3 separate regions of the Homo sapiens genome follow, and all the other regions are linked to region 1. Evidence: fine-mapped expression QTL. Tissue or cell type: whole blood. Region 1 holds a variant in brackets; each other region holds the start of a gene. Each region is shown on its reference strand, or each on the opposite one. Region 1 overlaps RREB1 (ras responsive element binding protein 1). Region 2 holds the start of RAB39B (RAB39B, member RAS oncogene family). Region 3 holds the start of AGAP2 (ArfGAP with GTPase domain, ankyrin repeat and PH domain 2).

Region 1 (10,241 bases):
TAGCCTCAACCTGGCAAGGCCACCTTCTCCCTGACCCTGCAGGGAACTGCAGTGTGTGCTCAGCAGTGGGGCTGCTGCCCATTGGCCTCACTAATGTTACCTCCCCTTTAAGCTCTACCAACTTGCACCTAAATCTCAGCCCATTCAAGTGTCATGTGCCTGCAATGTGCAACATCTATGCAGATGTTAAGGCCATGACCAAAACCAGTTCTCAGCGAAATGACTCCCAAGCCAGCACACCCCAAGCACTTTGAAGTCCCTGTTCTGCGTGGACTCCATAGCACAGAGGTTGCCAGGGCCTGCTGCTCCTGGGGGCTGGTTTGTAGATCATATGACTGCTGAAATCCCTTAGATAAAAGCAGGCATTGTCCACTTTTCCTTGAAATCTTGAAATCCTGGATAAGACCAGCAATCAAGTAACATTTCAATCCTCCAACAACCTTAAATCAATTGATCAAATTCTTCTCTTTGGGCCTCAGCTCCCCCCTTATACATAATACAATATCTAGTAAAAGCAATTTTAGTCAGTGTTTAAAGCAGACTGATTGCATTTATATTAAATAAAAGATAGGATTACGTGAAGGGGGCAAAGCTTTTAAAACAAACAATGAACCACCCAACAAATTTCCGCAGTATCTTTAAACTGCTCTGGAAGCATCAAGAGTATTAACTGAAAAAGCAGCTCCCTTCCCTCCTTCTCCATGTTCAGCCTCCAGCCGCACGGATGAGTTCTCTGTGCCTATGACTGATGCATGGAGGCTGATCTCCGGGCGGCCAGCAGCTGTTCAAATCCACGCCTGGATGCTTCGCTCACTGCACCTCCTGGCTCCACCACCCCAACCTCTCAACATGTGTCCTTGAGGCTCCGCCTACCCGGCGGATGTTACAAGCACACCATCTCAAATGCAGTCGCCATTGCAACAGGCTGCAGGTCGCTTATCACAAGGCACCGAAGACAAGCTCTTCCACCCTCGGCCACATCTCTCCTGCAAGCCCCCTCTGTGCCATCCCCACCCTGAAACAGTCAGCACACAGATCTGCCACTTGCTTCCTGGGAAGTCCTGGTTTTTCTTACTTTTCCATCTGCCCTGAGCATCTAACAGTCAGACAACGAATTCCTATTTCTGGTATGCAATTCAAGAAACAGAAATTAGTGGCATTTCCCTTGCCTGACAGTATGACCAATGTCTATACAACAAGAGAATACTTTCTACCTTCAGCATAGCAATCAGGAGGTATAGCTGCCATGCATATGCACAACTATAGTTTAATTTCAAAACTAATTAAAATTTCAAAGGGAACAATTTCTCTTATGGAGAAAAAACCCAAAACACACAAAAACCCTATCTGAATCAGGAACAGAAAAATTTATACCAACCTATATATGTTAACCATGCGTTACAGCAAACCTAAGTGCACAGAAGACTTAAATTCAGTAGTATTAAAAGCTAATATGACAATGTTTCAAATGTATCTATTAATCTGATTATTAAAACCTGGGTCCAGCAATGCTCCACACTTATGTATATAATATCAAACCACTTGAGAACCAGTAGCAGGTATTAGCAACTCTGGGGAGTTTTCAACCCTGGGATTTCCATGAAAATGTCCATTAATATATAACAAGGCCAAGAAAGAGTCTGGTATAGCACCATGGAGTGCTGAAGTGTTCTCTACCTATAAAATGGAACTACTGAGAAGAATAAAATTAGCAAATAACCTTGAAAAAAGAATAAAAAAAAAAAAAAACCAACCAGGCCAGGCGCAGTGGCCCACGCCTATAATCCCAGCACTTTGGGAGGCCGAGGTGTGTGGATCACCTGAGGTCAGGAGTTTGAGACCAGCCTGGCCAACATGGTGAAACCCCGTCTCTACTAAAAATACAAAAATTAGCCAGGCGTGGTGGTGCACACCTGTAATCCCAGCTACTCAGGAGGCTGAGGCAGGAGAATCGCTTGAACCTGGGAGGCGCCAGGTTGCAGTGAGCCGAGATTGCGCCACTGGACTCCAGCCTAGGCGACCAGAGCGAAACTCTGTCTCAACAAAAAACAAACAAAACCCAAAACCTAATAATTTCTGCTGAGTAAATACCTATTATTTTCCAAGTTAGGATTATTCCTCATGGCCAAAAAGCCATGTGGACACTATTCCAGGTGAGTTGTTCAATTCTGGGCACAGACATGAATTGTGGAAGAACACTGGGTAAAATGAAGACAAACTCATAAAAACAGAACAAGTCACCTCTCAAGTCCATTCCAGCTCTAAAATTCTATGGTTTTTTACAGTAAGTCTTAGTTGAGGGCACTCCTTCCTTCCAATTCACCATTTGATGGTTTAAATTTAACTTGAGACTTCCTTTAAGTTCAGTATTCCTTTTCTACAGAGACTATGTTTTCCAGGATGTCTATGACTTCTCTGGTACCTAGGGATCTTTGGTATCATTTGCTTTTAAAAATCCATGACATTTTATATATTCTTTTGGTGATAAATATGCACAATTCACATTAGGAATACAGACAAATGGCCAGGCGTGGTGGCTCACAACTGTAATTCCAGCACTTTGGGAGGCCAAGGCGGGCAGATCACCTGAGGTCAGGAGTTTGAGACCAGCCTGACCAATATGGTGAAACCCCGACTCTACTAAAAATACAAAAATTAGCTGGGTGTGGTAGCACGCGCCTCTAGTCCCAGCTACTCGGGAGGCTGAGACAGGAGAATTGCTTGAACCTGGGAGGCAGAGGTTGCAGTGAGCCGAAATCATGCCATTGCACTCCATTCTGGGCAACAGAGCAAGACTCTGTCTCAAAAAATAAAGGGAATACAGACAACCTGGTATGGTATTTGGACATCATCTGAATCTGTTAATGAATAACTTTTTTTCTACAAATCTGGGCAAAATATATAATATTTTAGTATATGTCTGACTATACTGAAAGGTTTATTCTAACACGTCATGTTAACTCATGAAGCAGCTGCACATCACTGAGGGGGAAGGAAAGTATTCAGAAATTAATTTTCCATATAAAACTCCTGGGTGTCAATCATTCTAAAGTATCTTTCAAACTTCCCTGTTTCCTTAAGCATAGCATGGTGAATCAATGTATGATTAATTCAGCCTTTTGTGGGGGTGACTCAGGATCATCACGATGAACAACTTACACTAGGCTGCCTCTGGAAACTAGTGACATACCCACCCCCCCCCACTTTACTTTTGCCACTGTACCACATGGCTCTGTTGGCCATGCTTGTTTTTCTCAATTGAAAATTTTCCTGAGATAATTGTGGATACACAGGCAGTTTTAAGAAATAACACAGAGGGCTCCTCTGTCCAGTCTGTGAAATTCCCCCAATGGGAATCCGCCATGCCGTTTGAATTCTTGTCTCATCCCCTAACATCTTTTCTGCTTGTTGTCAATGTGTCTCCTTCTGATGGCTTTTTTCCATCCCCAACATTGGCCTCAGAAATGTAGACTGGAAAATGTGAGACAAGGTGGCCAGGGCTGTATCTACAGTAAGAATAAATAGTGCTGAAGTGCAGGCCTAAAGGATCAATGGGAATCAAGGTAGGAGTGTTAGTACCAGGACTTCCTAACACCTTTGTGGCTTTGAAAACTTTATTTTACATACCTCTCCCCCCACGTATACCCTGCTGGCTCTCACTCACTCGCAAGCACATCGGCTGAATATTCTGGACCGAAGAATGCCAAATAAGCGACCTCTACATAAGCAATATACTACTTTTGAGTCAGCTAGCTAATCAACTGCTATATCCACAATGGTAATTGGCAATCCAGCAGTGTCCAGTGTCTTACTGTGAATACTGTCTACCAAGCCAATAATAGTTTGGAATGAATACACGCAGCTTAAAACACAAACTTTTTTTTTTTTTTCCTGAACTCACTGATGTTTCTGAGGAAGTTTTAACTTATCAATCACTGGTACTATGGAACAATTTAATTACCTAAGTTGAAGGAATGAAGTTATAAGAAAGATACAATGAAGAGCATTATGAATGTGCTTTAGAGACTTCAGTAAATAAGAAAACTGTCACTTTGTTCTCCTACTGCATTAGGAACTTCTCAAACAAAGAAGCTTGATGGAGGCAGACAGAGAGGGGCTTATCAGCTTAGGACACGGGATGGATGGTACAATTAACTGTCACACAGTCAGATATAATTCACTCTGATGAGGCCAGAGAAAGAAAACAAGGCAAAGAAAGGGCTCATCTTGTCCCTTTAGGTAATATCCAAATATCCCAGCACGGAAACCATCTTTTCCTCAAAGGTTATCTACACACGTGGCCTGAGAAGAAAGGCAGTAAGCCTTTGGGGAGTTGGGGAGAAGGAAGGAAAAGAAAACAGGAGGAGGAAAAAGGAAGACCTCTTTTCTGAACCACAAATGCCTCATGCTGCGCACTCCAAGCTGAAATGCAGTATGGTAGGTATTCTAAGGGGGAAAAAAACAACTACATTTCTTTCCTATTACTGATTCCTCTCTGCTTCACAGACCCAGCTCGGCCAAGTGGAAAACGGCTGCCATGAGTTCTGCAGAAGCTGCATGTCTTGCCCTGGCAGTCTGAAGGTGAAGCAGGCTTCAGAGGTGGACAGCTCAGGGAGAATCCAGAGAGGACACAGAAAAGCACACCAGGGCACCTTCTCCACGAGCCACCCACAGTCCATTTTACAGGCTAGAGCTCACCCTCTCAAAGTTAGAAGGTGCTCCAAAAACAGCTGGAGACTGGAGACCATAAACTACAAAATGCATGTGATGTTAAGATACTAAGAAAAGTACGGTTTCATTCTAAAACAGATGCACACAGAGAATTGTTTCTTCTGCCATGACAATACAGTTCCTTAGCTTTCAGAGTGCCAGACAAACTAGAATCAGAAACATCTTCCAACCAGTGTGAAGATGGAAGGAAAAAGAGCTCCTTTTCCTCTCCCTCCCCCACCACCTCCTCCCCACCAAAAAAAAAAAAAGAAAGAAGAAAGCCACGACACACCAGAAATAGCCTATGTGAGTCTGCTTCTAACAGCCAAAGGATGTGTGCACTATGAGCGGCTCCCTTGCAATGTGTGTTATAGTGAGCTCAAACATGACTATATATGGTATGTTTACGGAGTGAATGGACACAAACACGAAGCAGAACTTATATCAGACCCAAACTGGCTTTTAAAGAGCTCGGTTCCTCCACATTTATGGCCACAAGACGTCCCCTAAGTCAGAGCTAACTGTGGATACTTCCAGCAGTAATGTCTCCTGACTTGCTGGCACCGAGTTGCAGTGACTCCACCTCACTGCCCTCCCAGGCTGTCTGCGTGTGCACACACTTCCTTCTCCGTCCCCACCTCGCCTCCTCCCCTCCCATCTCCTGCTTTCCCCCTCTCAGGCCATCTACCCCCGGTCCCACAGAGACATAAATGCACATTCAAGAATGCTGCTGCTGAATGGGGCCTATGTTACATGACAGAGGGCATGGTAAGCGGGCCACAGACTGCTCTAGAAACAGATGGCAAGGCTGAGGCCCACAGCCGCTGCCTGCTTCTCACACAACAGGCTCCACAAAGTGTTTTATTCACATCCATGTTCTGCCTAGAAGGAAAGCCAGATACTGAAGTGTGTGTGTGTATCTGTGTGTGTGTGTTGGTGGGGGGAGTATAGTCTGAAGATGTATTAAAGTCCTGGGGGGCGGTGGGGAGACGGTGCGCAGAGCAGGAAGGAGAGGGATACGGAGAGGTGGCGTAGGGGGTAGGGAAAGAGAGAGAGAGAAAGAGAGAGGAAGGC[A/TTCATCA]CTGGCTTTAACAGTCTTGCCCAACCTGTTCTGCGGTATGTTCTGTTAACTCCTTTCTGGCAAATAGATGCAAACAGCAACCCCTTTCTTCCCTCTTCTTCTCCCCACAGGCATAGGGGCAGCTACAGGCAGAGAAAAGTCCCAAAGAAAAAGACGGGGCCCATTACTGGCTGAAATAAACCCATAATTTTGGTCATCTAGTATAAGACTTCCACTATCAGCTACTGGGGCTGACATTTCACTGGAAACTACCAACCTCACAGGCCCTCTCCATCTCCCAATTCTCCTCCTGACCCTGCAAAATAGGTTAATCGAGGTTAGGTCCTCTAAAATAGATACATGGAAATTAGGCTGAGCTAGGTCCAGTTTTCACGCACTTGAACAAAGCACTAAGGTGAGAAGGAAGCATCAAGTTCTTTTCTTCTTCTTCTTCGGTTGACATTAGGCATTTACAGGGTTAATAAGGGCAGCCTGAAGACCAGAAATTTACCTGCTTAGCAACAGAAGCATCAGCTAAGCTGTACTGGTTGTTTTGATACAGGAAAAGCAGTTTCTACCTGGTGAAAATTCCTGGTGATGTTTCAGTTGCCATTTTAAGCAACACACATACTAATCACAGGTAGAAGCCAGCAAGAAACTATGGGAAAAGGAGAAAAGTCCAAGGAGACTTTGCTCAGTTGAAAGGTCCAGGTCAAAACCAACCACCAAAACATGCGACCACACATGTAAACCTGCTCTGAAAATTACAACAGATCAGAGCTGAGAAAACTGCTCTTGGAAGCACTAACACACAAGCTCGTTTTCCCTCTAACTTGTTGTTTATGGCTGCTTTGTCTTCACATGGACCTTCAAGATTCTTCAGGTAGTGGAAAGAATGGGTGTCTTTTTTAATCATAAAAAGACAGATCTTCCCCTCTACACGGTGAGACGAAGAAGAAAGCATGACTCTCACAAAAGATTACACTTTCCCCCCTTAACTATGTTTGTATGTCGCAATTTTATAAAAAATGCAGATGTAACCCAGGGCCTTCATAACCTCGCTGAAGGACAACAAATAAATATATCTACTTCAAAATTCAACTACAGAAAGCTTCTTCATTTTCAACAAGTGACTGTTTCATTTTTGGAAGCTCCAGGATACCAAGGCACATAGAGTTGGTTGCTGTAAGATGTTTACTGCTGCCTTAACAGAAATGTATCTCCTTGGGAGAAGCAAGGCCTAAAAGCAGTTAGAACTGACAATTTGAACCAGTTGTTGAATATGTAAAGCACAGTAGAAAAAGATTAAAATATACTTCATTAACTAAAATACAAAGAAATAGAAATAATTTGTGAAAAAAAAAAAAGGAATAATGTCAATGTATACAACCAGAGAACACAGCACCTATATAATTACACAGGGCCAAAGAATGTCTATGTGAGAAAAACAAAACAGAAGTGAAAATCCTAACATTAATGCTATCACCTTTGGATAAGACCATGTTTCAAGAGCAGAAGAATGAGAAATTAAACAGTTACTTATAAATACTCTTCAATACCACATTGTAAAGTTTGGTTTTGACAGTTTCCCTTAAATTCAGTTTTAAAAATTAAGTTTCACATTATAATATAGTTGACAAATTAAAATTGTATATGTACAGTGTACAGGTGAGGTTTTGATACATGTATACATTGTGAAATGGTTAAATCAAGCTAACATATCTATAACCTCATATATTTATTTTTTGTTATGAGAACATTTAAGATCTTAAGTTCTAAACTGAAAACATTATTTGTGCATAAAGCTCAAAAAGAAAAAATATAATGACTTAGGAAATAATAAAACTTTCTAACTTCAACCCAATTTAAAGGAAAATTTGGAAGTCACATGTTTGAGAATATAAAAAAAAAAGTGTGCAAAACCAAGCCACAAAAACAATTCCCCCTTTAATAAAGTAAAATACTTGCACTTATTCAGGATCCCTAGACCAACAGTTTGAGCAAATTAAAACCTTATTTCTGAAACTTACATTTGAAAAAATGTAAGTTGGGTCAAAGAAATTCTAGTGTGGACAAAATGGTGGTATTTAAAGCAAAAATTTGGCCTATGCAAAAAAAAAAAAAAAAAAAGAAAGAAAAAAAGGCTGCAGTGATGCACACTGGTCGCCGGCAGAGTGGGCTGCAGAGGCCAGTTGTATCTAACAGTTGTGCTCAAAACAACAAATGGTGCATTCATAAACTGCAAAAGCAGAGGCTGTTCAGAGGCTGTAAAGTCTGCACCCGAATGATGAGCAGCCGACTTTGCTGTTGTTCCACAGAAAGGGAGTGAAAAAAAAGGACTGAATTCAGTTAGAAGCACAGGCTGTCACTTCAGCGGTGGCAAAACGGTCTAGATAAAGAGGCCCCAAGCACCATTTACTCTCTTCCAACAGGAGCTGGGTCTAATGATAATTGAGTCAACACCTCTACCTAAGATAATACTGCAAGAGCCAGTGTCGGGGGAAAGCCCAACTAGAAACCAGAACATGCACCTCCCCACACCCTTCTTGGTTTAAGAAAACATTCAGCACCACAAAACGCATAGTCTCAGACCAAGGGAGTGAACGACCATAGCCTGATTACCTGTGACACTGCCTCTCCATGCCCTTAACAAAAGAAACATCTGGTACCAGCTACTCAGCATCCCTGAAAACTGTCAGAGTTCCAACTTCTTAAAAAATTAATGAGCCGCATTTACACCTGCCAGTGCTGAAGGCCCATCAGGGCTAGCATAGGAACCACAATGCCTCACTTAATAGAAAACACTCGGGTTTGCAGCAAGCAAGCAAGCCAGCCAGCATCAGATGGGAGAATTTCCTTATGTATCATTTCCTAACCCTTTTAGCTGTATTTTCCCCAAAAATCCCAGTGGCTCAAATGTATTCATTTGTCTCAAGACAAGTTTCCAACACAAATGTAAAAGTGACCTGTTTCTAACGCAGTTTTGAAAGCTTTATTAGGGCTTTGTATTTGCATCGCCTGGGAAGCTTCCAATGCCCCAGCCACTGGTTCATGCTCCACCAGAACCTCCTGGAGAGGGGTCCCAGCATGTGTAGAAGAGAAAAGTTATCCCCCCATGAAGAATGAAGAATCACTATTAAGAGAAAAGCGACCACCAAAGGTGGTGCAGCAAAAGTGAGGTAAGTCTCAAAGTGGAAAGAGGGGGTGCCACGTAAAGTCACTGAACTCATTCTAGGGTCCTAGAGTGGCCGGTGCTGGGGTCCTCCCTGCCCGGCCTTGGGGCAGAAGTCAGTGCCCTGGCTTGGTAAGCTAGCCCCACGTGGCTCCGCCCATCACATGGCTGCAGAGGCGCCAGCTCATGAAGCGGGCCTGCTGGGGGTCAAGCCTGACCCCACGAACTGTCTCAGACTAAGGCAGGGCACACTCAGCAAGGCGCCTGGCAGCAGGCAACCTTTAGCCACCGGAACAGCCTGATGGTTACCAAACAGTGACCTGCTGCCCTCACCGGTGATGTACTTCCAGTACAGAACATCGAGAAACTGCGTCCTGGAGGGAGACTTGACACCGAGGGCAGGCGGGAGGACACAAGGGCGTCCAGCTTTGCGGGGGGACGCACCCGGTGGTGCCGAGGGCAGCGCAGCTGGGAAGGGCATGGGAGCCGGCTCTCGGAGGAGGGTGTAAAAGCGGAAGCCACGAGAACTGGCTGGGTTTTGTGTGGTCCTCCACCTCCATTCTCAGAAAATAGCCTTTTTTTTTTTTTTAAATTAAGACGGAGTTTCACTCTTGTTGCCCAGGCTGGAGTGCGGTGGCGCGATCTCGGCTCACTGCAACCTCCACCTCCCAAGTTCAAGCGATTCTCCTGCCTCAACCTCCTGAGTAGCTGGGATCACAGGCGCACGCCACCACGCCCAGCTAATTTTTGTATTTTTTTTAGTACAGACGGGGTTTCACCATGTTGGCCAGGCTGGTCTCGAACTCCTGACCTCAGATGATCCGCCTGCCTGGGCCTCCCAAATTGCTGGAATTACGAGCGTGAGCCTATGGGCGAGGGCCACCGCTCCCGGCCCAGAAAACGGCTCCTTTTAGAAAGGAGAGGCAATTATCCAGCCCTCTGCGGAAAGGGCCAGAAAGGCCCTGCTTCCTGGCCCGGCCACCCGGCTGCCCGTTCTCCTGGGCTCTGTCCTACACACGCCCCGCTCCTTCCAGGTTCACTTTGCCGCAGGCAAGTGTCTGCACCCCTCCTCCTCGTCAAAAAAGGCTTAAAGGAGCATTTTCTAGATACGTGGTTTTTCTTTTAAACAAAAGTTTTTGGAGCTACCCATCATGAAATACCCTGCTACATGTTTTTATTCTGAAATAGCCATCGGGGAAGCCAAATGTTTCAATGGGGACTTATTTGGGGAAATAATTACATAATGCGAGTGGGCATGCTCATGTCTATGCAAATCTTGTGAAAATTTAAAAGTGGTCACAGGCTA
Region 2 (10,241 bases), not on the chromosome of region 1:
TAGAATAAAGCTAGTATAAATCTGAAGGTGATTCTGATAAGTCAAGATATATATGGTAAGCTCTAAAGAACCACTAAAAAATACTTCAAAATATAGTGAAAAAATTTTAATCAAGAATTAAGAAACTCAAATGGTACATCAAAAAATATTCACTTAGTGCAAAAGAAAGCAATAAGAGAAGACTAGAGGAACAAAAATATTAAGACATACAGAAAAACAAATAAATGGCTGACATAAATCCCACTATATCAATAAATAACATTAAATGTGAACAGATTAAACAATCTGTTTAAAGAAAAGCAAAGATTATATGGCTAGATGTTTCGAATGGTACAACTATATGCTGTCTACAGCAGACACTTCATATTCAAAGATACAAAGTGATTGAAAGTAAAATGATGAAAAATACATATCATGAAAACACCAATCACAAGAAAGCTGAAGTGACTATACTAATATCAGAAAAAATAGACCTCAAAACAAAAACAGCTACTAAAGACAGACAATTCATAGTGATAAAAGGGTCAATCTATCAGAAAGATACAATTACAAACATATATGCATCTAACAATACAGCTCCAAAATATGTGAAGCAATAACTGACAGTTAAAGTGAAAAATCATTCTACAAGAATAGTTGGAGGCTTCATTCTCCACTTCCAATAATATGTAGAACAACTGTACTGAAGATCAACAAGGAAACAGTAGACTTATGTCTAAGTCTTTATAAGCCAACTAGACATAACAGTTTATACATATATATATTATATATAATATATAATATTTTATATATAATATGTTATATATTATATATAATATGTTATATATATTTATTATATATATATATATATAAAACAGCAGAGGATATATTCTTTTCAAGTGTACATGGAGCGTTATCCAGAATAGACTATATACTATGCCAAAAAAACAAACCTCAAGAAATTTAAAAGGATAGAAATAATACAAAGTATGTTTTCTGACCACATGGAATGAAATTAGAAATCAATAGTAGGAAAAAGATATAAGAAACTCACAAATATGTGAGAATTAAACAAAATACTAATAAATAACAAATGGGTCAAAGAAGAGATCAAAAGGAAAATCAGAAAATACTTTCAGATAAATGAAAATGAAGACACAAGAAAGATACCAAAACTTATGGGGTTCAGATAAAGCAATGCTCAGAGGGAAATGTATAGCTATAAGTGCCTGTATTAAGAAAAAAAATCTCAAATCAATAACTTAACCTTCCAACTTAAGAAACTGGAAAAAGATGAGCTAACTAAAAGAAAATCAAGCAAAAGGAAGAAAATAATAAAGATTAGGGCAGAGATAAATGAAACAAAGGGAATAGATTAACAATAGAATCAATGAAACCAAAAGTTGGTTCTTTGAAAAGAACAACAAAATTGCCAAACTCTTTTTTGGTTCCATATGGAATTTAAAGTAGTTTTTTCCAATTCTGTGAAGAAAGTCAATGGTAGCTTGACTGGTCATTAGAGAAATGCAAATCAAAACCACAATGAGATAACATCTCACGCCAGTTAGAATGGCAATCATTAAAAAGTCAGGAAACAGTGGCACGTGCCTGTAATCCCAGCTACTCGGGAGGCTGAGGGAGGATAACTGCTTGAGCCCAGGAGATGGAGGTTGCAGTGAGCTGAGATCATGCCACTGCACTGGAGCCTGGCCCACAGAGCGAGACTCTGTCTCAAAAAAAAAAAAAAAGGAAACAACAGATGCTAGAGAGGATGTGGAGAAATAGGAACACTTTTACACTGTTGGTGGGAGTGTAAATTAGTTCAAGCATTGTGGAAGACAGTGTGGTGATTCCTCAAGGATCTTGAACCAGAAATACCATTTGACCCAGCAATCCTATTACTGGGTGTATACCCAAAGGATCATAAATCATTATACTATAAAGACACATGCACACATATGTTTATTGCAGCACTGTTCACAATAGCAAAGACTTGGAACCAACCCAAATGCCCATCAGTGACAGACTGTGTAAAGAAAATGTGGTACATATACACCATGGAATACTATGCAGCCATAAAGAAGGATGAGTGCATGTCCTTTGCAGAGACATGAATGAAGCTGGAAACCATCATTCTCAGCAAACTAACAGAAGAACAGAAAACCAAACACCACATGTTCTGACTCATAAGTGGGAGTTGAACAATGAGAACACATGGACACAGGGAGGGGAACATCACACACCGGGGCCTGTTGGGGGGTGGAGGGGTAGGGGAGGGATAGCATTAGAAAAAATACCTAATGTAGGTGACAGGTTGATGGGTGCAGCACATCACCATGGCGCGTGTATACCTATGCAACAAACCTGCATGTTCGGCACATGTATCCCAGAACTTACTATTTAAAATAAATAAATAAATAAATAAAAACTATTAGGACTAATAAGCAAGTTCAGCAAGGTTGGAGGATATAAAATCAATATGCAAAAATTAATTCCATTTTATAAACTTGCAAGGAGCAATCTAAAAATGAAATTAAGAAAACAATTCCATTCACAATAGCATCATAAATAACAAAATACTTGAAGTACAAAACTTATACACTGAACACTATGAAACATTGTTAAAACAAGTTTTAAAAACCTAAATAAATGGAATGATATCCATCTTGTGCTCATGGATTGAAAGACTTAATTTTAATAAGACAGCAACACTCTCCAAATTGATCTACAGAGTCAAATCAATACCTATTAGCATTCCAACTGCCTTATTTGCAGAAACTGATAAGCTGTTCTTAAAATTCATATGAAATTGCAAAGGGCTCCAAATAACCAAAACAATCTTTGAAAAGATTGGATCCTCCACAGTAGGAGGACTCACACTTTCTGATTTCAGAACTTTCTACAAAGCTACAACAGTCAAGAGAGTGTCATACCAGCATAAGGGCAGACATATAGACCAATGTGTATTGACCATTTCATTTCCTCTTCTGGGAATTGTCTCTTTATATACTTTGTATTTTTTATGTGTAATCTTTTATCATTGCCTTACTGTTTTAAAACAAATCAGCTTTATTAACATAGAAATAGAAAGTCCAAAAATACATCCATACATCCATGGTCAATTGATTTTCCAGAGTGTCAAAATCATTCCATAGAGAAAGAATAGTATCCTCAATAGAGTGCTGGGATAGCTGGATATCCACATGCAAAGGAATGAATTTGAACCCCTTCCTCACACCATGCATAAAAACGAACACAAAATGGATCATAGACCTAAATGAATGAACTACAACTATAAAACTCTTAGAAGAAAGAATGAGTAAACCTTCATGACCTTGGATTGGGCAAAGTATTCTTAGACATGACACCAGAAGCATGAGCAACAAAATAGAAACTCGATAAATTGTACTTCTTAAAAATCTAACTTTGTTTTTCAAAGGACACCCTCAAGAAAGTGAAAAAAAAGAACACACTGAATTGGAGAAAATATTTGCAAATCATATATGTGATAAAGGACTTGTGTCTAGCATATATAAAGAACTCTTATAACTCAATAATACAAAGACTAGTAATCCAGTTTAAAAATGGGCAAAAGATCTAAGTCAATATTTTTCCAAGGAAGATACACAAATGGCCAATAAGAATGTAAAAATATGCTTGAAGTCATCAGTCGTTAGGGAAATGCAAATCAAACTAGAATAAAGTACCACTTCACATCCATGTTAGAGAGAATGTGGAGAAATTGGAACCCCATAGGCTGCCAGTGGGATGTAATATGGTACAGCCACTGTGAAAAAGTCAGGCATTTCATCAAAGGGTTAAACATAGAGTTGCCACAGGACTGAGGAATTCCGTTCTTAGGTATAAATCCCAAAAAACTGAAAACAGATATTAAAAAAAAAAACCTGGCACATGAATATTCGATGGTAGGATTATTTAGAATAGCCAAAAGGTGGGAACAACCCAAATGTCCCTCAATGAATGAATGGATAAACAAGATATGGTCTATCCATATGATGGAATAGTATTCAGCCACAAAAAGGAATGAAGTACTGATACTTGCTACAGTGTGAATGAACCTTGAAAACATTATGCTAAGTGAAAGCAGCCAGTCACAAAAATGCACATATTATATGATTTCATGTATATGAAATGTTCAGAATAGGGAAATTTATAGAGACAGAAAGTACATTAATGGTTGCCAAAGGCTGGAGGAACATGGGATAGAGAGATGATAGCTAAAAGGTTCTGGGTTCCTTTTTTTAAAAAATATATATACATATTTTATTATACTTTTAGTTCTAGGGTACCTGTGCAGAACGTGCAGGTTTGTTACATATGTATACGTGTGCCATGTTGGTGTGCTGCACCCATTAACTCGTCATTTACATTTACATTAGGTAAATGTAATCCCTCCTAATGCTATCCCTCCCCCCTCCCCCCACCCCTCTGGGTTACTTTTTGAAGTGATAAAAATGTTATAAAATTAACTGTGGTGATAGTTGTATATATCTGTGAGTATATTAAAAACCTATGCTAAGAATTGTTCACTTTAAATGGGTGAATTGTACAGTATGTGAATTTTCATGTTAATGAAGCTGATTTTTTTTAAAGAGTAAGGCAACGATAAAAGATTACACATAGAAGGCCGGGCGCGGTGGCTCACGCCTGTAATCCCAGCACTTTGGGAGGCCGAGGCGGGCAGATCACAAGGTCAGGAGATCGAGACCATCCTGGCTAATACAGTGTAACCTTATCTCTACTAAAAATACAAAAAATTAGCCGGGCGTGGTGGCGGGCACCTGTAGTCCCACCTACTCGGGAGGCTGAGGCAGGAGAATGGCATGAACCCGGGAGGTAGAGGTTGCAGTGGGCCGAGATCGCGCCACTGCACTCCAGCCTGGGCGACAGAGAGAGACTCTGTCTCAAAAAAAAAATAAAATAAAATTACACATAAAAAATACAAAGGATATGAAGAGACAATTCCCAGAAGAGGAAATGAAATGGTCAATACACAAGACTTGGTATTGACCTCATCAGTAGTCAGAGAAATGTAAAAATAAAGCAATGAGACATATTTTTATTTAACTAAATTCTATTGAGAAGAATTAAGAAAGAATAAAACATACATATGATGCTTGAAATAATGCAGAGCGATGGTCTTTTCACACATTGCTGGGTAGAATTTAAACTGTTAAATAGTTTTGGAAAGTAGAATGCCCATGTCCGTTAAATTTAAAATACTTATACTCTTTGAATTCATGGCCCCTTTTTTAAGACTGTAGCTCACAGAAATAAAATACTTGTGGCTACACTTTAAAATAAGTTATGACAAAAGGGAAATTAGGTGGAAATGGAAAGATATTTATGTTGCTTTATTAATTGCAAAAAGCAATTATTAATTGAAAGTAAGGCCCCAGTTTAATTTTTGTAAAAACAAACAGCAATAAATGCATATAGGAATACAAACACATATAATATTTGTGTGTTTATGTGAGCATGGAAACACTTGTAGACTAATATATAATTATGTGCCTTCCCTTTTTTGTGCAGTTTTGTATTGCTTTGCTAGTTTCAATGAAAAGGTATGACATTGGCAGTTTGAACGACAGAGAACAGTTTTAATGAACAGAGGGTGGGTGGGGTAGTTAGAAAGGGAGGGATCGCGCTAATGTTGCAGCCATTTTGTGTGCGCTCCTCTTACAGATAGTGCGGCGGCCCAGGCGTCGCGTCTACGCGGGGGATTACAGTAACCCGGTTGTCAGTGATGAGTCAGAGTGCGTGGTGCTGATGCTGCTGCCATTTCATCACCTTTGCGAGCGCAGCATCCATCCCTCCGCTCTCCCGGCGCCTGGGCCTACCCAGCTTCGGGCTCCCAGGCCAGCGATGCGCTCGCGGCTGAGCTAGATCCTGCCGAGCCGCGCTCTCTGAGGCGTCGGCGGGGCGCCCCCTCCCGCCGTCCCCGGTCCGGGCCAAGGAGACCTGCAGAGCCGCGGCCATGGAGGCCATCTGGCTGTACCAGTTCCGGCTCATTGTCATCGGGGATTCCACAGTGGGCAAGTCCTGCCTGATCCGCCGCTTCACCGAGGGTCGCTTTGCCCAGGTTTCTGACCCCACCGTGGGGGTGGATTTTTTCTCCCGCTTGGTGGAGATCGAGCCAGGAAAACGCATCAAGCTCCAGATCTGGGATACCGCGGGTCAAGAGAGGTTCAGGTGGGAGCGCAGTCCGGGCCCGCAAGCAGTGGGAGGGTCTTCGGGGTTTGCACCGCCTCTGGGGAGAGAGGACTTCCTGGTTCTAGGTGCGGTCCAGGAGGGCAACACCAAGGGTCTTGAGGATTCTGCCGAAGCCCACCTTCGGCTAACCCGGAGTTTAGTGCAAGGAAAGAAGCGCCCTGGCAGGGAAGGCCGGTCAATAACACATATTGCTTGCACCACAACTCCACCAACCTGCCCTTTGGTGGCTAACAAACTAGCTGGAATTGATCTCTGTATCTGTAATTCATCAATCTCAGTCCCTATGTTACATACTTTCAAAAACGTTCCCAGGTCATCCTAACATAACTGACAGAGATTTAAATACATAAATACATGTGTATTATGTTTTATTTCCACATCTGTGTGTGTGCACATATATATGCTAACATATGTTCTAACATGAAATAGATACGATTGATTCCTTCTTGCAACCAGCACACATTCAGTGATCATCTACTATGTGCCAGACTCTGGGCTTGTTCCTGGGAAAACAGTGTGAGGAGACTCACACAAGGGGATGCCATGTAATCTAAACAGACAAAGCCCCTTCATTCTTGGAACTTCTGTGCTAACATAGTTGAGGGAAATAGATAATCAGCAATTACGAAAGTGTGTCTTGCTCATATTTGTATGCCCACTCCCTACTGTAACACTTGGCACAAAATGAACATGCTTAATTTCAATCAATGAATTCATTGAATAATCAATGAATATGTTTACTTTCACTCAGAACCCTTTGCTTTTCTATTGTAGCATGTATTATTTGTAATTATATGTATGAACACAGAGGAGGAAAGGTTAACTGGAGAAGATGAGACCGGATGAGTATGACTGCCTAAGCAAAGACAGGAAACGCCCAGGGATAGGAAACAGCATGAATAAAGACAGAAGTGAGAGGGAGCAGAGTGTACACAGAAAACTTTGCAGAGAACAATTTGAACTAAAGTAGAGCAGCAGGAACCAGATCAAGAAAACTCAATAGCCCAAGTTTATGATCATTTACTCATTTATCTATTGAAAACTAACTAAGCATAGAAGATACTGGTTGGGTAATTGAAGAGGGGTAAGGAGAAGAAATAATTACAAACTTAAGTTACCTCCAGCTCCCCACTTCCACAAACACCACTGTGGAAAATATCCTTGTACAGGTTCACTTTGAACTTGCGATTGCATTTCTCCTAAGCAAAGAAAGGTATCTTTTATGTGTTTGTTGGAATTTCTTTCTATATGAACAGCCTGTTCATATCCACTGCTTATTTATTTATTGGGCAATATGGACTTGTAAGAGTACTTTATAGATTAAGAATATTAACCCTTTCCTGTCATGTATGTTGTAAGATATATTCCTAGTTTATCATCTGTCTTTTCACATTATTTAAGATTTTTTAATGTAGGGAAGAATTTAAGGTTTATGTAGCCTTATGTCCATGCTTAGAAGGCCTTTGTCACTTTCTTTGCTAAGTACTCACAAACAATTAATGTAATAATATATTCCAGAGTTTTGACAGTGATCTACAGCTTGCTTGTTGATTTCTTGAATCAACCTTCTCACAAATCAAAACCTTTGTTTGTTCATGTCTAAATTTTCTGGTAAATCTACCATTCTCCATGAATCTTCAAACCTAAGAGACGAGAAATGCTTTCAGTCCCCAGGGCTGATTTGCCTGATTTTGGAGACTTAAAGTCATTTGTAAGTTTTACTTTTACCATCATCTAGCTTGGACTGTAGGTCCCTGGACAATGCTTGTTCTGCTAACATTGAGCCATTTTCTCTAAGCTATTGAGTCCTTCGTTGTCTATCTTCTTTATCTGAGGAGACAGAAAACCTAAAAATAGACATAGGTAAAAAAAATCACAGTAGTCTAAAGCAAGTGACTGCAGAGACAAATAGGTCCATACCCTGTAATAAGCTTTAATACACTGTAAGCAAAGTGCCATAATGTATATTTATAATGAGGTTCCTCAAGTCAAGAAGTTAAAACATGTGAAGTTTCTTCTGATGGCTCCTGAGTTGAGTTGGCCTCTCTGAAATGTGTCAGGAAACAGGGCTGAGAGGCACTTTGCCTGAACCCTTCGCCATCTCTCTTTTTCCCATTCCCACAGGCCTTGAAAATAAAAAATAAAATTGTGTTTCTCCTCACAGAAGAGATTGAGGATCCCTGTTAGCTAATAATAATAATAATAATAATAATAAACAATAATAATAATGGAAAGAGAAAAAAACATGGTAATGATAAATGGAAAAAATGGAGTAGCAAGATACCTACTTTAAATATTTTGTTAACTATCATAAATTCATTTCTATGTTTTAAAAATCCTGTTTCAACTGCTAGCATTTGTAATGAACTCTCCACGTCACAGAACACTTTAATATCCATTGTTTCATTTTGCCTCATGGTAACACTGTGACTTGGGTATCCTATTTTGCAGAAAAGGAAGTCTCTGTCAGTTATTCAGATTTGGGGGGTGGGAGAGTTAGTTGTAGTTTTACCTGAAGGCAAGAAATAGAACTCAGTTATGTCCCAGGGTCACTCTCCAGTGCTGAATCCATGGAAAATGCCTAAAAGTTCATGAACATTCGTTTCTAGAAGATGCCCATCTCAAAGTTTGGCCCAATTGGAAACTCACATATTAGTAGTAGTATGGAATGCCATTTGTATTCCTTTGTTTTTTTAAAAAAAAAGAAAATCATTTTTATTAAAGGACTGTGTCACTAACCAGGAACACTTGAATATACTGAGTTCATTGACATGCAGAAGTTTGGGCACAGCCTTTACTCTTTACTTCTTTCTTGTGTTTTAGATCCATCACTCGCGCCTACTACAGGAACTCAGTAGGTGGTCTTCTCTTATTTGACATTACCAACCGCAGGTCCTTCCAGAATGTCCATGAGTGGTTAGAAGAGACCAAAGTACACGTTCAGCCCTACCAAATTGTATTTGTTCTGGTGGGTCACAAGTGTGACCTGGATACACAGAGGCAAGTGACTCGCCACGAGGCCGAGAAACTGGCTGCTGCATACGGCATGAAGTACATTGAAACGTCAGCCCGAGATGCCATTAATGTGGAGAAAGCCTTCACAGACCTGACAAGAGACATATATGAGCTGGTTAAAAGGGGGGAGATTACAATCCAGGAGGGCTGGGAAGGGGTGAAGAGTGGATTTGTACCAAATGTGGTTCACTCTTCAGAAGAGGTTGTCAAATCAGAGAGGAGATGTTTGTGCTAGTCAGTTCTTTTATTTCCAAAACATGCTCTCCTACTTGAACTGAAAAGTAAGAGAAATAAATAGAATCTTTGTGTAACTGATGAGAACTCAACCTCCATTTGGATACCAAGTGAGCCTCCCTCTCAGGGGGACTCTGACAGACTCGTGTGCGGGTGGATGGGGGTGCCTGAGTGCTGTGACCAAGGGACTGAATTGCTGACATGGGCCAGGCCAGGCACTGTTTTGTGGCCCATGCTAGGCAGTGGCTGCTCCATGAGCCCTTTGTGGACCACATGTTAAAGGCCTGGGGTTTAGGAAGCTAAGTCCCAGGAAAACATACCTACAGACAGGACAACTGTTCCTTGGTATTTGAGCTCACTTATAGGCCATGAACATAAAGAAATACATAAAGGGGAAAAAAGTTTCACAATGGGGACAATTAGCATAACTAAACAAAGATTATGAGCTCTACTTATTCCGTGAGAATACCCTGCACCAAAGGTGTTTGCTGGGTTTGGTTAAAAGGTACCAATTAGCTTTTAACAGCTTTCTGTAAAATGAGGAACACAGACCAAAAGGTCTGGTGTTCAAGTAAAAATGATGTGACTATGGAAAGGAAGGCAATCGACACAGTTATTAGCACATTTCAGAAAATGAACACCCTTGTGATAGAATTACCAGCTGTATGAAACAAATTGTCCCATGCAAATTACCCTATAACTAGGAAAGAGACACTATAACCCAAATGCCATACCCCCTTTTTCCTTTGACCATGCCTGGGGTTTCAATGCCTTGGCAC
Region 3 (10,241 bases), not on the chromosome of region 1:
TGCTGGGATTACAGGCATGAGCCACCACGCCTGGCCTCACTTGGCCCTTTTAAACAGGAGGTGGCCTCAGTGGGTAGCTGCCTGAAAAAGGGTTACATCGTAAGACATAAGGATACAGGGCTCATTGGGATGTGTAGAGAGGGCAATGGGTACAAGTGTATACTAGAATGCAGGGCTGTGAGGGTAACAGACCAAATGTGCATGAATTCCTGTGAGAGTTTGAAATCCGCAGGTCATCAAGAGTTTAGGATTGCACCTCGGACCTAGCTTGCCATATTCTCCCAGAACCAACACCCATCTTAATTAGCCACCTCCCACAGGAGGCCCTGGGACACTGTTAAGATTTCTCCATCCACCTGGCTGGGAAATCATAGCAGGGACTGGCTGGCAGGGTTGATGGGCCAACACTAGAGGGGGTGGGAGGTGCAGGAGGTAGTGCTGTCCCAGGCTGTGGGTTTGAAACTCACCAGTCAGGAAGTGAGGTCGACAGACGGAAGGGCGGGCAGGGGCGGGGAGTTCTGGGCACAGCAGAAGGGGCCTTCTGAGGTTTGGGGGCTGTAGGGCCATGGGCCTCAGGGCCAGAGGTGGTTGTTAGCCTGGCAAGACAGGTCTGGGCAACATGCATGCCCAGAGGCAGTTCGTTGTAGCTGCAGTGAGAGCAGAAGTCAGACGACATGAGGTGGCCAAGCAGGCTCTAAACCGCCTCAGGAAGCTGGCAGAGAGGGTGGACGACCCCGAACTCCAGGACAGCATCCAGGCCTCATTGGACAGCATTCGAGGTAAGAGAAAGGTCAGCCCTCAACTTGGGTGTATCAGGGACTAGCAGGTGCATAGAAGGTTTAGCTGTATCATATATCAATTCCCAGTCAGCTACTTCCTAGTCCCCAAGATGGGACTCTGGGAAAGAATACATTTAGGGAGGATGGAAAAAGACATGGGAGGTATCATTCTTTCTCTTTCCCTGCTCTGATCCTTCTCCCAGGAGATCAAAATACAGGTCCCTGTTGAGCTGACCTTCTTGGCAATGAAGAAATGTGTGAGCATGGGGAAGATAGGCTGTGACAGACTCATGGTAGACTTGTTCCCTGCCTGGGGAGTCCAGAGCAGGAAGCAGTCTGGGGCAGCAGGTTCTGGGACTGGATAATGAGTTCATTCCCAGGACCCACAAAGGATCAGTGACCTCTTGTTCTCCAGCTGTAGAGAGAAACACATGCACACACATACACACACACACACACGCATGCACATTGAAGTACACCATGCAGAGAATCTCAGGCTCCCAAGCGCATACTAACTCTCACACACTATGCTCTGCAGAGCCAAAGTGCAGATAGGTCCCCAGAACTCTTCTTGGTCCCCTCTCCTCCCCTTGCTCCTGTTCCTGTCTTCCCCCCACACACCTTCCGCTCTACCTCCTTAGTGCCATTAGAGCAAGTGATGACAACACAGGGAGGAAATGCTGCCATGGCAACACCATCCGCCACATCCTCCTGCCCACCCCAGGCTTCAGTCCTGTGGTGGAGCCCTGGCAGGAACAGCTTCTCTCCATCCACAAGGCCCTACCACTGAGGAACTGGTGGAACTGGAGGTTGTTCCAGCTCGCTGTCATTCCATTCACCTCTGATGCAGCAAAGAGCTAACAAAAGCAGCCTTCTTTGCTCATGAAAGGTGTCTGGTGGAAACACTTCTTCCATCATATCCTGATCTCTTCCAGCCATTTCAGTCTTCTCCATTGTTACCTGCCTACCTGGGTGGTTGTCAAGAGATCATTCTTTCCCTCAAGGACACCTCCTGCCAGACCTCTCTGCTAGTACACCAGAGTATAACTTGGGGAAGGAACAGCTTGCTTTGGATGCCTAGTGGGACAGTCTGATGATCCCCTTCCCATTGTTCTTCGGAGGCTAGTGCCCCTCTCACCTCCTGTCCCATACCCTTTGCCAGGAACTACACCTGAAGCTTCCCCTGACAGCCTTAGTGTTTGGAAAGGCAGACCAAGGGGGAGTGGGCCATGGGGCCTCCTAGGGAGAAACTCTAAGCCCCACCCCTCTCAAAAATAATAATGATAATAATAATAAAGGAGAAGAGCGGTTTAGGCCAGGCAGAAAAGCTGTGCTTAGCTCTGGAGAGGGAGGAGGGTGAGGAGGGGTGGAGGTGGAAATCCCTGAGAAGGCTTCACTCCTCATAAGTGATTTGTTTTACTCCTTCTCTAAGAATTAGTATTCTGTTCCCATTGAACATAAAGGAAAACCGAGGCCATCAAAGGAGGGAAGTTTAAGCCAGAGCCAACAATTCTCCTTCACCCTCTCCATCAAAAAACACTACTGAAGGGTCTCCTGTCCTGGGGATGGTGTCATCTTGGTTCTGTAGGGAGGGAGGGAGAAACTGCTGAGCCCCAGGACAGAACATTGGAGGGATTGGATACAGGCCTCTGGGAGAACAAAGGGCTCCTGGCATCCTGGCTCAGCCCCCCCACCCTCAGCCCCCCACCAGGCCAAGCACGCTGCGGGCTCCTGCCTCCAAGAGCCGCCCACGGCAGCACTTATTATAGTCTCAGCTGCGTCAGGAGGGTGGGACGCCAAATCAGGGGACTGCTGTGACTCCCCAAGTCCCGGGAAGGGGTCTCCAAGGCTGCAGAGAGACCTTCCTTCGCCCATCTTACCCCACCCCCAAGGGGTCTCAACCTCTTTTCCACTTTGGCCTAACCACTTCAGGATTCTCACCTGGCTGGAGGATAGAGAGCCTTGAACTCCAAGACCCCTAGAGGGGTGGGGGACACGGAGCAGACGGTTTCCATTCACTCTGCCTGCCTCCTCTTTAATCTTCTGAAAGAATCCCACTCAGCAAACCTCAGGAGACTGAAAGGGAACCCTGAAGAGGCCGGCTCTCACTGCCTCAACTGAAGGGTCCTTATACTTGGGGAGTGAAATCCTCCACCTGTGGGTAGCCAGGTGTCAGGGCAGTGCCTCCACTAATTCAGCATCCCGCGGTTGGTCCCCTACCCACCATACACACGGATTCCTCTCTGCTTCTGCCCGCTGTTTCTGAGGCACTCTTGGAGCTACGGTTGCTATGGAGACTGGATGCATTTTGGCATGGGGGGGTATCAGTCTAAGACACATCCTTCTCCCTCCTCCTAGAGCTGGAGCCTTTGACTTACCCTGTGGCCTGGGCTCCTCCAGCACTCAGATCTCTCCCTTCTCTCCTACCCTGCTAAGTTCCATGTTTGTCCCCATCCCTGGGGAACATTTTCCAAGTTCACTTTGGGACAGTCGAGCTCAAGTCTTGGCCCCGTCAAAGTATTAAATGTGGTGGTGTGAGTGGGAAAGGGAGCTGGGTCATGAGAACGGGAACCGTCCAGGTACCTGGGGGAGACAAGAGATCCTGGGGGAAGGGATTTCAGGGCCCCCACTTTCCCACTTCATCTTCCCCAGAATTGGCAGTGACCCTGGGTTTGCTCTGTTTACCGCGGCCCCTGTCCACCCAATAGATCGATTTTCACCCTTATCCCTAAATGCCATACCTCACAATCGCGCTTCCTAACCTTGGTGCGCGAGAGGAGGGGGCTAGGTTGTTGGAGGAGGTGAGTCCAAGTCCCAGGAAATCCAGCCCAGGATTTGGGAGAGAAATCCAGCCCTGGATTTTGCACCGCCCTCGCAGACATCGGTGCTGGTGGAGAAAAGGTGGGGGGGAGATAGGGTGGGGGGGCCTGGGGGCCGCCTCCTCCTCAATGTGAGGGGAGCGCCCGGACACAGCGCGCATCCGGACCAAGCCGAGCCCAGGCGAGGCCCCCGGACTCTTCGCCCGGATCTCACGCCCCTCCCCTCCCAGACCCCAGACCCGTGGGTTCCCACCCACCTCCCGTTCCCTCTTTCCTCCCCCGCCGCCTCCTGTATCTCCATCCCCAGCATCCTCCCCGCGCCCCTGCGAATCCCCCGCACGGCCAGCCCCACTAGCTTCCCACCCTCCTCTAGACCCTCTTTCCGACCGCATCCGCGGCCCCTGTCCCTTGAGTCCCAATTCCCCGCCCCTGCCTCCCCCGCACAGGTTCGTTTCCCCTAGCCTCCGGTCCCCTTTTCTGCTCCCTTTTCCTCTCTCTCCCCCATTTGCCCCCACTACTGTCCTCCCCGCCCTCCCCCACCCATCTCAGCGCCCCCACCCAGGCCGGGGTGGACGGTCCGGCGCGCCTCCCTGGAGCAGCACCAAGGTCCCGGGGCTCCAAGAGGGTGGGGGCGCAGGGCGGGGAGCATGGGGAGGGGGCGCCCCATGTGATGGGAGGGGGGCGCAAGCGGAGGCGGCGGAGGCGGCGGCGACAGCGGAGCCGGGCCGGGGGCTCAGCGGGGTCCGGGGGCTGGGGGCAGCGAGCAGGGCGGCCCCATGGCCGGGCCCCCCTGAGGCAGTCCGGGGGAGTCCCCTCCCCTCCCCAGCTCGGGGGTCTCCGGGCCCCATGAGCCGGGGCGCGGGCGCGCTTCAGCGCCGGACAACGACCTACCTCATCTCGCTGACCCTGGTTAAGCTCGAGTCGGTGCCTCCGCCGCCGCCTTCTCCGTCTGCGGCCGCGGCCGGCGCCGCCGGTGCCAGAGGCTCCGAGACTGGGGATCCTGGCAGCCCCCGAGGCGCGGAGGAGCCGGGCAAGAAGCGGCACGAACGTCTCTTCCACCGGCAGGATGCGCTGTGGATCAGCACGAGCAGCGCGGGCACCGGGGGCGCGGAGCCCCCAGCCCTGTCCCCGGCTCCGGCCAGTCCGGCCCGCCCAGTCTCCCCCGCTCCCGGCCGCCGCCTCTCCCTCTGGGCCGTCCCTCCGGGACCCCCGCTCTCCGGGGGACTGAGCCCCGACCCCAAGCCTGGGGGCGCCCCCACCTCCTCCCGGCGCCCCCTGCTCAGCAGCCCGAGCTGGGGCGGCCCGGAGCCCGAAGGCCGGGCGGGCGGCGGCATCCCTGGCTCATCCTCTCCGCACCCTGGCACCGGCAGCCGGAGGCTCAAGGTGGCGCCTCCTCCGCCGGCTCCCAAGCCTTGCAAGACCGTGACCACGAGTGGAGCCAAAGCCGGCGGGGGCAAGGGCGCGGGTAGCCGCCTGTCATGGCCCGAAAGCGAGGGCAAGCCCAGGGTCAAGGGGTCAAAGAGCAGCGCCGGGACTGGAGCTTCGGTCTCTGCCGCCGCCACCGCCGCCGCCGCCGGGGGAGGGGGCTCTACAGCTTCGACCTCTGGTGGGGTCGGGGCTGGGGCTGGAGCCCGAGGGAAGTTGTCCCCTCGGAAAGGCAAGAGTAAGACCTTGGACAACAGTGACTTGCATCCGGGACCGCCTGCCGGCTCTCCTCCTCCGCTAACCCTCCCACCAACTCCGAGTCCAGCCACTGCTGTCACCGCTGCTTCCGCGCAGCCCCCCGGGCCTGCACCTCCAATCACTCTGGAGCCTCCAGCTCCGGGGCTGAAACGGGGCCGGGAGGGGGGCCGAGCATCCACTCGTGACCGCAAGATGCTCAAGTTTATCAGCGGCATCTTCACCAAGAGCACAGGAGGGCCTCCTGGCTCCGGGCCCCTTCCCGGACCCCCCAGCCTGTCTTCTGGCAGCGGGTCCAGGGAGCTGCTGGGCGCCGAGCTCCGCGCTTCCCCTAGTGAGTTGAGTCAGGGCTTGAGAACAGGGAGGGAAGGGTACCTGGAATGCTCAGCTTGGGGTGGAGGAGCGAGGTCCAGGAAACTAGGGAAGCTTTTCTCTGGGGTGGGCGGATGAACCAAGCTCACCCCTCTGTCAAGGATTGGGGCAAAGAATAGGAGTCCTGAAGCGGGGCGAGTAGCTACATTGTGCGACAGGAGAAAGGACTTGATTTCAGAGGGACTCAGCCTCAGAGCTTTCTGGGAAAGTAACGTCCTTGATCAGAGTGACTAGAAAATTGCTCCCAGAGAAGCCCAGGACCCCACTTCCAGCCTCAGCTGAACTCTGGGAGCATGGAAACGGGGCTTTGCCGTGTTTAGAGCGACGTTGAAGGTGAAGGGGATGAGGAAGCCTCAGTTTCCCCTGAGCACTTGGGGCAGGTGGCATGACAGTGACCTTGCAGGCAGCTTCTCGCCAGGGACTAGTCGTCCCCTGGGCTGAGAGCAGGCTAGTGATGTTTTTCGTGCGGTGAAGGCGGATTGGGCGGTACGCGAGTCCGCGGGGGCTGGAACGTGCAGAATATTTAAATGTGAAGTGAGAGGGGGCGGATAGGAAGCCTCACTTCCCCCACTGCCCACCCCCTCCCCAGAGCCGCATTGAAACCCACCCGGGGCTGACCCTGGAGTGAGTCAGGTGGGGCGGAACTGCTGCAAAGGCAATCCGTACCCCGGGAGACTTGGGAGGCGGTACGGGGAAGGTAGTGTTTTTTACGGGGGCAGGGTGTCTATTATTATTACTATTTTCCTACTGGAGGAGATAGGCAGGAGACTCTTGGTTCGGCTCACACTCCCGGGAGAGGAGGCGGGTCCGGGAGCGGAGGCGGCCCCCGGGGTTTGGCTCCGGAGCGGGTGGGAGCAGATGGCTCCGGATCCCAGAGTTCCCGCCGCAGCTGCGGCGCCCCGGGAACGTCCGGCCGGTGTCAGGCGCGGGGGCTGGACCTGGCTGGCGGAAGGAGCATCCTTTCCCCCGGGCCTGTGGCTTCTCTCGGCCAGGCGATGGAGCCCTTCCCCACAGTTCTTTTGGAGGGCGTTTGTGGGGAGGGTGTGGGAGATGGAGGCATAGGAAAATCCTAGCTCTTTCCCTTGGGCTGTGGGGAGGGGTCCAGGGCTACAGTGCCGTTGACCTTGAAGAAGGGGAGGGAAACCCCTCACCTCAGTTTCTCTCCTGTGGAATGGAGGTTGGGGAAGACACACTCTCTTCTGTGTTTCAGCACCTCCTCCCAGGGTCTGCCCTGGGAACCAGTGGGTTAGGGAGGAGCTCCTCTTCTATTCTTTTTCCAGAGGGAAGAACCTGCCACTGTCAGAGCCCTGGTCTCCCTGTCTGGGGCCAGGACCCGCGTTTGGGGATGTGCTTTAAGGGAGATGCCAACTGAAGTATTTTTGTCTTGCTAGCTCCGTTGCTAAGCAACCACTGAGCGGCAGCAACAGCTGGGGGAGAGTGGCTGGGATGGGAGGCCTGGGGACCACCCTCAAACCTGTCTGTTGCACACACCTCTCCAGTGCAGGCAGGGTTGGGGGGGGGTTGGAAAGCTGCAGAGGGAGGAGGGGTGGCTCAGTGTTGGGGGTCCTTCTGAGCCAGGAGCCTCCCCTCTTACTGCCCTTCTCCCGTTACAGAGGCTGTGATCAATAGCCAGGAATGGACTTTGAGCCGCTCCATTCCTGAACTGCGCCTGGTAGGTAACCCAGTCCCCTTGCCTATAGGGAAGGCTGACCTCCCACCCACTGCACTCTCAGCTCTCTCCCTTCACCTCTCCTTCTCTCTCTCTCTCTCTTTGGGAATAGGGAATCGTTTTCCAGTTCTCCTGAGAGTCTGCCTTCATAGCACCAACATGGGGTTTGCTACAGCCTCCTCACAAGTTTTTCCTATCTAGTCTTTATGCAGCCATCCCCTTTTTCCTGTTTGTTCATGGTCCTCCTCCAGGCTTCTCATTTCTGGTATCTGCCCTTTGGCCTTCATGTTGTACTGCCTAGAATTGGGTAAAGTTTTCCAACTAGTGCCTAGAGCTGTGACATGCTACAAACACACACACACAGAGACACACACACACAACATATCTAGTATGTTTTCTAAACAACCCAACACACAAAAAAGCTGGTACTGAATTGCTGACATTCTTCAGCTCGTGCTCCACTTTGAGCTTGGGATCATTTCTTACCACACTCATGCCCTGATCCTCCCAACTGCTCTGATCCCCCCAGCTGCTCTGATCCTCCCAACTGCTCTCTCTGGAATGACTGTCATCCAGGCCCTGTAGGGTCCTGCTTGGATGACTTATCTCTCTGGGTTTTCTGGAGTGTCCAGACCCATGCATCCTGCCTTCTCTTATATCCCACAATTTCTGCTCCACAACCTTGCCCTCAGGGTGTGCTGGGCGATGCCAGGAGTGGGAAGTCATCGCTCATCCACCGATTCCTGACTGGCTCATACCAGGTGCTGGAGAAGACAGAGAGTGAGTTCTGAAGAGCCATAGTAAGCTAACCATTGGGGTCAGGGATCCAGGAGTGAGATCAATGATTAGGCAGGTGTGGAGACCAGGGGGGAAGGATGAGGCCATAATAGCAAAAGCACTGGGAGCATGGGGAGGTTTGGTGACCTGTCACCTCTGACCTGTTACCCCTTCCAACTCTTCTGGACAGGTGAGCAGTACAAGAAAGAAATGTTGGTGGATGGACAGACACATCTGGTGCTAATCCGAGAGGAAGCTGGGGCACCTGATGCCAAGGTGAGGGTGGAGGTGGTGGGGGACAGGCTGGCTGGGGTCAGCACTGGCCAAAGGAGAGGGCTCTGGTTTCCCAGGTCTTCATCTGGATTGGGTCCAGAGGAGTAGACCTGTCTGACTTTCCATTTGCTCCCTCACTCCCCGCAAGTTCTCAGGCTGGGCAGATGCTGTGATCTTCGTCTTCAGCCTGGAGGATGAGAACAGTTTCCAGGCTGTGAGCCGTCTCCATGGGCAGCTGAGTTCCCTTCGCGGGGAGGGACGAGGAGGCCTGGCCTTGGCACTGGTGGGGACACAAGGTAAGGAGGGGTTAGGAAAGCACTGCTTTCAAGGGAGGCCCTAAGGAGGCTACTGGGATATTGCCCAACATGGGTGAGAACTTGGTAAGGTGTGGAAATGGCCACTTGGATTATAGTACCCTTCTGGAGGGAGCCTGGTCTCCAAATAAGGGAGTCATGAAACCAAACAATAACTTCCCAAGGTCTGAGCAGAGAAAAGGGGATCTCCAGGGAGGAAAGGACAGCTATAGTAGCCATCTCCTTGCCTCTCCTGAAATGTCACCTACCTTGTGTTCTGACACTGCCATTTCCTAGTGCCACCATCCTAGGACACAGAAAATCTCAAGTCCTAGGGTGGATAGGAAACCTTTTCCATCTTCCTTTTTGCGACAGCTGGGTAAGGCTGACACCTTTTAAAGGAACTTATCCAAAAACAAAGTGAAAACACAAAGGAAATGATGATGAAAAGAAGAGAGCAGAAAACCTTTTAGTTCTCAGAGAAGTGACTCAGAGGCTCCCAGACTCTGCCAGGGCCAGGAAATGCTTTTCCAGCACTCCCCTGTGTCGAGCTGGTGGGACTTGGTCTGGATGCCTGTTCTGCTGGTGCCTATCTCCACCTGTTGCTTGCATCCTGGTTTCTTGCTGCAGAGTGGGCAGTCCAGCCATGACCCATGGGCACCCAACCTTTTCCTAGTTCACAAGCTGGTGTCCTCCCACCAGTTCAGGGTTCTATGGATTTGCAGGGCAGGGTGATTGTCGCTCGCGCCTGGGTCTCAGCTATGTAGACCTTGTCAGGAAGCACCACTCAGCAGCTCTGGAGTATTCCTTGAGGACACACACACACACACACACACACACACAGCTCACCCAGCTAGGTGTGTGAACTGGGCCCAGTACTCAGAAAGGGCTTATGTACTCCCATTCCACCTGGTCACAGAAAAGATGATCTCTCACACCCCATCCCCAGTGGACCCAGCCTGAGGGCCCAGTGCAAGGATAAGGGAATTGTGAAAAATCGAACAAGGTGGGGCTCCTTGTTCAATCCTGCCCCTTTCCTGTCCCCTCAGACAGGATCAGTGCTTCCTCCCCTCGGGTGGTGGGAGATGCTCGTGCCAGAGCTCTGTGCGCGGACATGAAACGCTGCAGCTACTATGAGACTTGTGCAACCTATGGGCTCAATGTGGATCGGGTCTTCCAGGAGGGTGAGTGTAGTGATCTCCAGCATATGTGGGAAGCCAGAGCAAGGGGCCTGGGATATTCTCAGTGGTCAGGCATCCAGGCCTCTCTCTGTGAGTGACAGGAAATTAGCCTTTGTGGGAGGGAGGAGAGATCAGGGAGGCCAGAGAAGGTTTGCTTAATAGTCGCAAGGTCTTTCTGGGCTGGAGGAGCTGGCAAGGCCACAGGTGGCATGGAGGCCACAGTGACAAGGAAGTTGGGTCCTGTGTTGTCTACTGGGGATTTCTCAAAGCTGGGCATGGAAGGGTGGTCTTGGGTATCTGGCCTGCTCACACCTCCTTCCGTCAACTCCCCTCAGTGGCCCAGAAGGTGGTGACCTTGCGCAAGCAGCAACAGCTTCTGGCTGCCTGCAAGTCCCTGC

The links. PIP is the estimated chance that this variant, and not a neighbour inherited with it, causes the effect.
Region 2: it holds the start of RAB39B, and the variant in region 1 is fine-mapped to the expression of RAB39B in whole blood (TOPMed, PIP above 0.99).
Region 3: it holds the start of AGAP2, and the variant in region 1 is the best candidate, but not a certain one, in a credible set for the expression of AGAP2 in whole blood (TOPMed, PIP 0.51).

The regions. Positions count from the first base shown.
Region 1 is chr6:7,141,504-7,151,744 of GRCh38, reverse strand. All of the region lies in intron 1 of RREB1 (ras responsive element binding protein 1), which reads right to left. Among named protein-coding and RNA genes, the nearest start is that of RREB1, 39 kb to the right of the region's middle. RefSeq lists a silencer at 783-948 and enhancers at 5,148-5,297, 5,556-6,226. The variant A/TTCATCA (reference allele first, on the strand shown) is at 5,785.
Region 2 is chrX:155,260,025-155,270,265 of GRCh38, reverse strand. It overlaps RAB39B (RAB39B, member RAS oncogene family), which reads left to right and starts at 5,775. Exons shown (of 2, transcript NM_171998.4): 1 at 5,775-6,192; 2 at 9,037-10,241. The coding sequence starts at 5,978. The coding sequence ends at 9,463. RefSeq lists silencers at 5,728-5,777, 5,788-5,997.
Region 3 is chr12:57,732,450-57,742,690 of GRCh38, reverse strand. AGAP2 (ArfGAP with GTPase domain, ankyrin repeat and PH domain 2) reads left to right here and starts at 3,949. Exons shown (of 19, transcript NM_001122772.3): 1 at 3,949-5,612; 2 at 7,264-7,322; 3 at 8,012-8,099; 4 at 8,287-8,372; 5 at 8,518-8,665; 6 at 9,712-9,846; 7 at 10,179-10,241. The coding sequence starts at 4,445. RefSeq lists enhancers at 731-790, 1,324-1,403, 7,862-9,061 and a silencer at 4,577-4,796.